2 separate regions of the Homo sapiens genome follow, and region 2 is linked to region 1. Evidence: fine-mapped expression QTL. Tissue or cell type: whole blood. Region 1 holds a variant in brackets; the other region holds the start of a gene. All regions are shown on one strand. Distances are from middle to middle.

Region 1 (4,163 bases):
GCCCTTGACTAGGGCTCTGGGTATGCTAGAAAAACACAGATCTCTTGTGAATTATTGAGGTCCAGCTTTAGGGTTGGGGGCGAGTACCAATATTCATTTGGAGGTAAATTGAGTTATTTTTAAAATGGCAGAAAAGGAAGGAGAAAAATCAGCTCAAATTTTCCATTATAATGAAAGTACAGGAAACAAGCCTTTCTATATTCATTTTAGGCCTAAATAACTCTGCAGAGAATAAGGGTTTTGCAATGTCAGTTGCACACACAACTTCCTGTGTGAATGCTAAGCCATTACAGGTGTCCTAAGGCCTCCAGTGAAACCTATTATCAAGAGATTCCTCTGGTCTCCTCGAAGTCATCCCCAGCGCCCCCCATCCGCCGCCCACACATTATTGCTTCTCTCCTCCAAGTGTCTTGATTAAGGACCCTCTCTCTTCTCCGCACTCCCGAGGTTAAAGTGCCCCCGTTCCCTTGGTGTAGCTAGTTACAAGCTTTCCCGTTAGGGAAGACTAGTGCCTGCAGTCCTTTTTAGTTAGATGCTTTTAAGTCAGAGATGAGAGGAGCCACTTGAAGAAACCCTCCTTCCCTTCTTCCTTTCCCCCACTGGGAACCAAGTCCCTGAAGGACAACACCCAGGGACGCTTCCTGACCTTCTATCCCCTCACCCAATTTGGGCTTGGAGGGTTGGGGTCGCATTTTCTCATGTCCTCTGCTGCACTGGATGTGTTATGTAAGAGGGACAGAACGCGGGAGGCACATGCGTATAAAGCGCACCGATCTGTGATAACAGCTGGGGTAGCAGAGCGGATCTGGAGTCCACCCCCCCCCCCCACCAAATACGACAGACCCCACACATGCACATCAGCACCCCCTCCCCCACACACCCACACACACACACACACACGCACACACCCAGAGCAATGTTTTCCTGTCTCACCCCTACCAGTACCAGAGGCACAGAATGGAAAGGCGGGGGGTGGGGGTGAAAGGAGGTGAAAGAGGAGGAGGAGCAGCAGCAGCACATCTGCTTTGATAGCAGCCGGCAGTGCCGCCGCGGCAGAGAGCCCCTCGTTAACCCCCTTCCTGTGGCTGCACCACGTCATGGAACATTCCCGGAACGGGCCAACGTTCCACCCACTTCAGGGAACAGACATAAAGGCGCAGACCCAGTTCCCCACAGTGCACAGCCCAAACACACATGTCCCTTCCCGATCCCCCGCCAGACGGACAGACAAACACGCATGCAAACCGCCCCCACCCGTCTCCACGCGCCCGGGTCCAGCCGGCAGCGGCCAGAGCCGCTCTGCAGCCGGTGCACCCGCAAGGCGAGGGCGCCTCCGCCTGAACCTTCCATCGAGACAGTCCCCTCCTTCCTCGCTTCCTTCCTTCGCTCCTTCCTTCCTTCCTTCCTTGCCCGGGAGGTAAAGGGAGTCACTGAAATGCCCAGAGCCAGCGCCTTCGCTGCGCTCGCTCGGCCGCAGGCCGGCGGCCCGGGCCTCGCGCCGCCAGCCCGCCCGGCCGCCTGCGCCGCGCGCCGCGGCCCCCTCCCCCGCTACCTGACAACGGGCCGCCGCCGGCCGCCGCAGCCGCAGCGGTGGCCGGGCCGTGCGCGCCGGTGCACGTCGCTCATTAGTAAGCAGGCACATTCCTGCCTCCAGCGCTCCCGCGCGGCCCCCTCCCCCCAGGACATTACGCAAAGCAGCCTCCCCTCATCTGCATAGATCCGCGGCCAGGGTATTCCCCGCATTTCCCCACGCGCCCGACACCCCTCCCGCGGTCTCCCCCATCCCCGCCCCCTCCGACCCTCACCCTCGGGCCACCGGGAAGGGGCTGGGGGCACACGCCGGGGAGCGGGGGACGGAGTTCGGCGGCGGCGATTCCAATATAAAGTGAAACAAGCTCCCAGCGCCGAAGGAGGCAGGAAAAACCCAGCGTCCAGGCCACTTACCGAGCCGAGGAGGGACCTAGATTCCCGCCGCTCCGCTCTCGCGGTGGCCGGTCCGCCCTCCGCGCACCCCGAGGCTGCACCCAGCACCCCAGACGCGAGACGTGGAGGAACGCTGTGAACGAGCCGGGAGACCCTCCAAGTTGCTCTGGGCTCCGTGGAGCGTCAAGGTCCAAGACACAACTTGGCAAAGACTTGTGCCACAGTCACCGAAGATGTTTGTGCGGAGACCCTCCTGCGGGGAACGACGGCGCTCGGCGGCGCCCCGCTCTCCTCCTCTCCACCCCCTCACCTCCAGCCCGCCTCCCGCCGGCCGCCCGCCTCCGGGCCGCGAGCCCCTCGGGCGGCTGTCAGCTCCCGGCCGCCGCCGGGTGACAGGGGCGGGAGGAGGGCGCGACGCGGCGGCCCGAGCCCCAGCGGGCGAGGGGGAT[C/G]CTCGCAGCCGCGGCGGCCGCTCACCTGGAAAGTCACCGCTGAGGAGGAGGAGAAGGAGGACGGGGAGGAGGAGGGAGAGGAGGAGGGGGAGGAAACCCCCCTGGTGCCCTTGTTCTCGCTGCCGCGGCGGCCGCTCCTCGCCAAGGCTGAGCGTGTCTGGTGGGGGGTGTCTGGTAGCATTTCCTTAAGGACAGAGGGAGGGCGGGCGCGGAGGGAGGGAAAAGATCCCGACCGCCAGCCCAGGCTCCTCTTGCCTTTATTTATTTTTCTGACACTGTACGGAGATGGGCCCGGGGCAGGGGCCGCCGGGCTCAGGCGGGAGCCGCGAGGCCCGGGCCGCAGCTGTCTGCGTGCGGGAGCCGCAGCGGCCGCCTCCCCTCCCGGGCTGTGGACGCACCGGGTTATTCCTGGCAGCGCCTCCCCGAACAGAAGTTACTAGGAGGAGTGCGCGGCGAGGGCGGACGGGGGGAGAGGCGGAGGGAGGGAGGGAGGAAGAGGGAGAGACTCAGCCAACGACGTCATCGGATCCCCCAGCGCGTCCCAGGGAGGGAGGCTGAACCAGAAAAACCAGTCTGGAGCCAGTGAGCGAGAGAGGGATGTGCGGCGCGCGGGGCGACGGGGGAGGGAGGCGGTCGGGAGGGCAGGGCCGGGCCCCACGGCTGCCGCTGCGGGCGGGGAGATCGCGGCCGCGCACTCGCTCGGTCGGAGCGGGGAACTCCCCGGAGAGCTGGTCTCTACTTGTCATGCAAAAAAACTTGGGCATCTCTAGGAGCCTGAGAATTTCCTTTAAGGATGTGGAAACGTCCTCCGTCCCCACCCCTTCCCCATTTCCCAGAGAATCGTTGTCTGCCTTCCTGACGAACGGAATTGTATAATTAGTAGTGCCCTTAGATTTGGAACCAGTACTCCGGATCCCTGGCCTCTCCTCGCCCCCTGCCTCTACTCACAATTATGTTATCGGTCAAGAAAAGCAAAATCAGACTGTGGCTCCCGGCTGGGTTTCTGGAGCTTTGTAGGGTTTTACTAGCACTTTCCGTGCCCCTGCGGGCGCGCGAACTATTCACGTGCTCGAAACGCCCGGATTACCTTCCCTGAGGTCACTCACCAGGGTGCCCCCGGCACCCCCAGTTCGGGGACCGCGGCCCGCCCTCGCCAGGGGATTCAAATAGGTGTGGGCAGCGGCGCGAAGAGCAGCTGCCGGTTTCCTGGTGGGCCGCGCTGGAACCTCGGGGCGAGCTGCCACCTTCAGCCTGTGCGCTTCCCTCTCCACGGAAGGGACCGGAGTTGAAATCACAACCAACCCTGGGAGAGCGGGGCCGGGAGGCGGGGGAATCCCAGGCGAGTGGGAGCCGAAGCTCTGGGCTTCCTCCCCGGCCGGGCGACACCCGGGGGACACCGGGGCTCTCTCGGGCCGTTACCCTGCCTATGTGGACTGGTGTGCACCCTCGGGGGAGGTTCCTAGGGTGCCACGGTGCCCGAGCGCGACGAGTGACTGCTGGGGAGGGGGGCCGGGTCCCGGAGCGCCTCCTCCGGGTGGTCTCCCCCCCAGCGGGGACCGCGCGCAGCACCTCGCGGGCGCCCCAGCCCCCGCACCCTGCGGAGCAGAGCCGAGCGCCCAGGACGCCGCGGGCCCCAGCGGTCCTCCCCACCCCCTGGCCGCGCCGCCGCCCTGCCCGGGGCGGAGTAAACAAGAGACGCGCAAGATTTGACCTGGCGCGACCCGGCTTTCTGGCCGGGGTTCCCCCTGAGCAGGTGACTCCGTGGGAGGGGTGGAAATGAGTCTCTGGAAT
Region 2 (4,163 bases), 570 kb after region 1:
AATTCCAGTATGAAAGGCACTCTGTACTAGAAGGAAAGGCAACATCCTAAGCTTCAAAGACAAGAAGTAGAATACTGTACAGAACTTGCTAAAATTTATTATTTAAGTCTCCCCACATAATTTAGTCACACAATGTCAATTTAATTCTTGGACCCAGCAGAGACCCTAACAGAATGGAGGTGTAATTTTTCTACCCCTAGAGTAGAGCATGGTACCATGTATACTATGTAATGTTAATATAATATATAGTTCATACTCTGTATTGTGTCTACTAAATATAGTATGTTAATTTGGATGTATACTATTTATGTAGTATATAGTTGATTCAAATAAATACTGTTTAATGATTCCGTTCTTTTACTTAAGAATATATTATGTGTCCCAAAGTCCTGGAATTACAGGTATGAGCCACCGCGGATCACCTGAGGTCAGGAGTTCAAGACCAGCCTGGCTAACATGGCAAAACCCCGTTTCTACTAAAAAATACAAAAAAATTGGCCAGGCATGGTGGCGTGCGCCTGTAGTCCCAGCTACTCAGGAGGCTAAGGCGCGAGAATCGTTTGAACCCGGGCGGCGAAGGTTGCAGTGAGCCGAGATGGTGCCACTGCACTCCAGCCTGGGTGACAGAATGAGACTATGTCTCAAAAAAAAAAAAAAAAGAATATATTATGTGTATGTTTCTATATATGCACACAAAATATTTCTGTTTTGAAGGACTTAATACTTGTAGCATTTAGTCAGAAAAGACATGTGCAACAGTTTAAGAAATTACATGCACATTTTCACATAGATCTCAAGGTAAAATCTAACGCACAGATTTTTGTGTAGCACCTTTCATACGGCAGTATGATAACTGGGTTGTGTTAAGAGTACCATTCTAGAACCTCTTTAAAAAGTTCCTAGAGCCACACATGGGTAACATGTTAACATTAAGTAGCCAATGGTGTTCAATGAACAGTCGTTTCACATACTCATGACTATGTTTTAACCATAACTTCATGGCAGAACGACTGTAAATTGGCAGGTAGCAGCAGAGCAACCATAGGCCATTGTGCCTGAGTCACCGCTCGTGTGATGCCCCTGCACAAACTGATGAATGTCTGTAGTAGCTCGATGTTGTAGTGTCATAACTACAGCTTAATATGCGCAACTATGAAGAAGCTGAGGAGTCAGGAGTATCTGAAAACTCTTACAGTCACACGGAAGAAAAATTCCCTGTTCATCCAGCAGAAGCACTTAGGCAGGAAACCACATATTCGACACCCGGAAGTGCGAAACGCGGGTAACGCAGTGGGAGGTGAAACCGACGAGGGTGCAGGCAGCACCAGGCGGCGAACCAGGCCCGCTGGGTGGTGGCTGGAGGCTGCGGGTGGGGACAAAAGCGCGGCAGACGAGACAAAAGGGAGCGCACTCACCAGAACCACTCGCTACCGAAGCTGGGCACGGAAAACACTCCCCAGTGGATGAAGATGCCGAACTTGGCCTGGTCAAACCACGCGGGCAGCTGGCGGGCGTCCAGGGACTCCCAGGTGGGGTCGAAGCGCGTGGCGCTGTGGGCAGGGCACGGCGGCGGCGGCAGCAGCAGCAACAGCAACAGCAGCAACGGGAACGCGAGCCTGGGGAGCTCCTGGGGCCGCATGTCCCGGCGCAGGCCGGCTGTCCTCTCTGCAGGCTCCCGCGGCCTCGGGAGCGCTGTTCTTCCGTCTCTGCCGCTGAGTATGCCGCGCCGCGGTCACCTGACCAAGTCGGACTTGGAAACCGGCCACCCTTCCCCCTCTGGGGCGGGAGTGGCCACTCTCCCGGGCGTTCCGAATGACCTCAGGAGGGCTGCATCGCTCAGCATAACTAAGGCCAGCATTACCCCAAAGCCAGCTGGGACGGCTTTGCTAAGGCTCTGTCCTCTTGAGGGGAAAATATGAGTCTGAGTCAGGGCCTTGTGGCCAGCGCCTCTGCCCTCAAGCAGACACGACCCTGACCAAGAAACTGCCCAAGAAGACAATGCCCCCAGCCCACCCTGGTGGCTGCTCCACACGTCCGAAGCGTGCACGAGAAGGTCAAGGCAGGAACTTCAGCCGGGTCTCGCCATGATGGAACATGGAAAGCAACCTAGATCCTTCTCGGCCTCTGTATCAGCTCCCAAGATCCTGCATGTTAGAACCGTGGTTGTCAACCTTGAATTTGTATCAGATGAAATTCCAAGAGCTTCAGATTCAGCAGTTAGGTTGGGGCCCAAGAATTTGCGTTTCTACCCAGTTCCTACTTCTAGGATGTTCTGATGTTGGGCCGGGCGCGGTGGCTCACTCCTGTAATCCCAACACTTTGGGAGGCCGAGGCGGGCGGATCACAAGGTCAGAAGATCGAGACCATCCTGACTAACACGGTGAAACCCCGTCCCTACTAAAAATACAAAAAATTAGCGGGACGTGGTGGCGGACGCCTGTAGTCCCAGTTACTCGGGAGGCTGAGGCAGGAGAATCGCTTGAACCCGGGAGGCAGTTACAGTGAGCAGAGACGGTGCCACTGCACTCCAGCCTGGGCTACAGAGTGAGACTCCATCTCAAAAAAAAAAAAAAAAAGAAAGAAAACAAAATTGTGATGTTTCTGATTGGTGGTCCAAACTTTCCTGAGAACCACTGCATTGAACAAGGAGATGATCTGAGACAGGTGAAACCAGTGGAATGAATGTTTAAGAAACCTGCAAGCTTGGGAAAAAAGGCCAGCAACTTGGAAAGATTAATCAAAAGGATATTTGGGAAGCTTATCACCTCCACCTCTTGTTTGGTTTGTTTGTTTGTTTGTTTGTTTGTTTGTTTGTTTGTTTTTGAGACAGAGTCTCGCTCTCTCGCCCAGGCTTGAGTGCAGTAACATGATCTAGGCTCACTGCAGCCTCTGCCTCCCGGGTTCAAGGATTCTCCTGCCTCAGCCTCCAGAGTAGCTGGGACTACAGGCACATGCCACTGTGCCAGACTAATTTTTGTATTTTTCTTTTCTTTTTTAGTAGAGACAGGGTTTCACCATGTTGGACAAGCTGGTCTCAAACTCTTGACCTCAGGTGATCTGCCCGCCTTGGCCTCCCAAAGTGCTAGAATTACAGGCATGAGCCACCAAGCCCAGCCTCTCCTCCACCTCGTAAGTGTTTTCAAAGTAAAGCCAGAATCCTCAACTGCTTCTGCCCCCATGAAATCATTACCCTTCAATGAGCCAATTCAAATGCTGCTTCTTTTGTGAAGCTTTCTGCCACCACCCTTCCCTCCCAGAATGTTGTACTTTCCCTGATCTGCTTCATAACACCTCCTTCCAAGCACACATAGGATTTCACGCATCCTCTAGTAGCTAGGTGGTACAGGTCTGATTTCCCATCAGACTGTGAGCTTTTTGAGGGCATTCATAATGACCTTCTTTTCTGTAGTGCCTACAATTACAGCAGAAAAGCAGCACTCAAAATGTTTGTTGAAGCTCTCCAGTGAACTGGGGTTCTAATTATTGAGTGAAGAACTTGACACTAAGTGGCTGTTGCCTGCATTATCCCAACCCATCTCTGCAGAGAGATGGGAGCAGCAGAGGGCGCTGTCACTGCAGGTGTAGGGGCATTTTTCCTCTCCATGACATGCCAGATGGCCCCCCGGGGCCACAGCTCCACCGTAAGAGTCCCCAATTTTGTTTTGTTTTTTTACAGTGAGGGTGTTCTAGAGGAAAGGGCTCAACGAATCCAATTGCAATAGCTCCAGTTTGTGATAAAGATGACAATTTTTTTTTATTTGAGACAGAGTCTGGTTCTGTTGCCCAGGCTGGAGTGCAGTGGCACAGTGTTGACTCACTGCCACCTCCACCCCCGGGGATTCAAGCAATTATCGTGTCTCAGCCTCCCGAGTAGCTGGGATTACAGACCCCAACCTCCAGCTAACTTTTGTATTTTCACCATGTTGGCAAGGCTGGTTTTGAACCCCTGATCTCAAGTCATCCTCCTGCCTCAGCCTCTCAAAGTGCTGGGATTACAGGCATGAGCCACGGTGCCTGGGCTGACAAATATTTATTATTGAGTTTGTGGAACCCAGAATGATCTAGGGCCTCAGTGGCCACTGAACCCTGGGGCACACTTGAACAAAAATATGGGCTTCTCAGCCACTATGCCTTGACATCCTCTCTAATCAGAAGTTTGTGTA

What was found. PIP is the estimated chance that this variant, and not a neighbour inherited with it, causes the effect.
Region 2: it holds the start of FUCA2, and the variant in region 1 is fine-mapped to the expression of FUCA2 in whole blood (INTERVAL, PIP above 0.99).

The regions. Positions count from the first base shown.
Region 1 is chr6:142,943,547-142,947,709 of GRCh38, forward strand. It overlaps HIVEP2 (HIVEP zinc finger 2), which reads right to left and starts at 1,630. Exons shown (of 10, transcript NM_006734.4): 1 at 1,553-1,630. HIVEP2-DT (HIVEP2 divergent transcript) reads left to right here and starts at 2,943. Exons shown (of 3, transcript XR_001744397.3): 1 at 2,943-4,163. RefSeq lists silencers at 1,260-1,329, 1,470-1,569, 1,770-1,999, 2,230-2,859, 2,910-3,129 and 1 more and an enhancer at 4,160-4,163. The variant C/G (reference allele first, on the strand shown) is at 2,373.
Region 2 is chr6:143,509,996-143,514,158 of GRCh38, forward strand. It overlaps FUCA2 (alpha-L-fucosidase 2), which reads right to left and starts at 1,725. Exons shown (of 7, transcript NM_032020.5): 1 at 1,416-1,725. The coding sequence starts at 1,639. It overlaps LOC105378035 (a long non-coding RNA gene), which reads left to right and starts at 1,790. Exons shown (of 4, transcript XR_007059796.1): 1 at 1,790-2,781; 2 at 2,999-4,163. RefSeq lists a silencer at 958-1,161 and enhancers at 1,362-2,024, 1,584-1,713, 1,824-2,003, 2,025-2,685.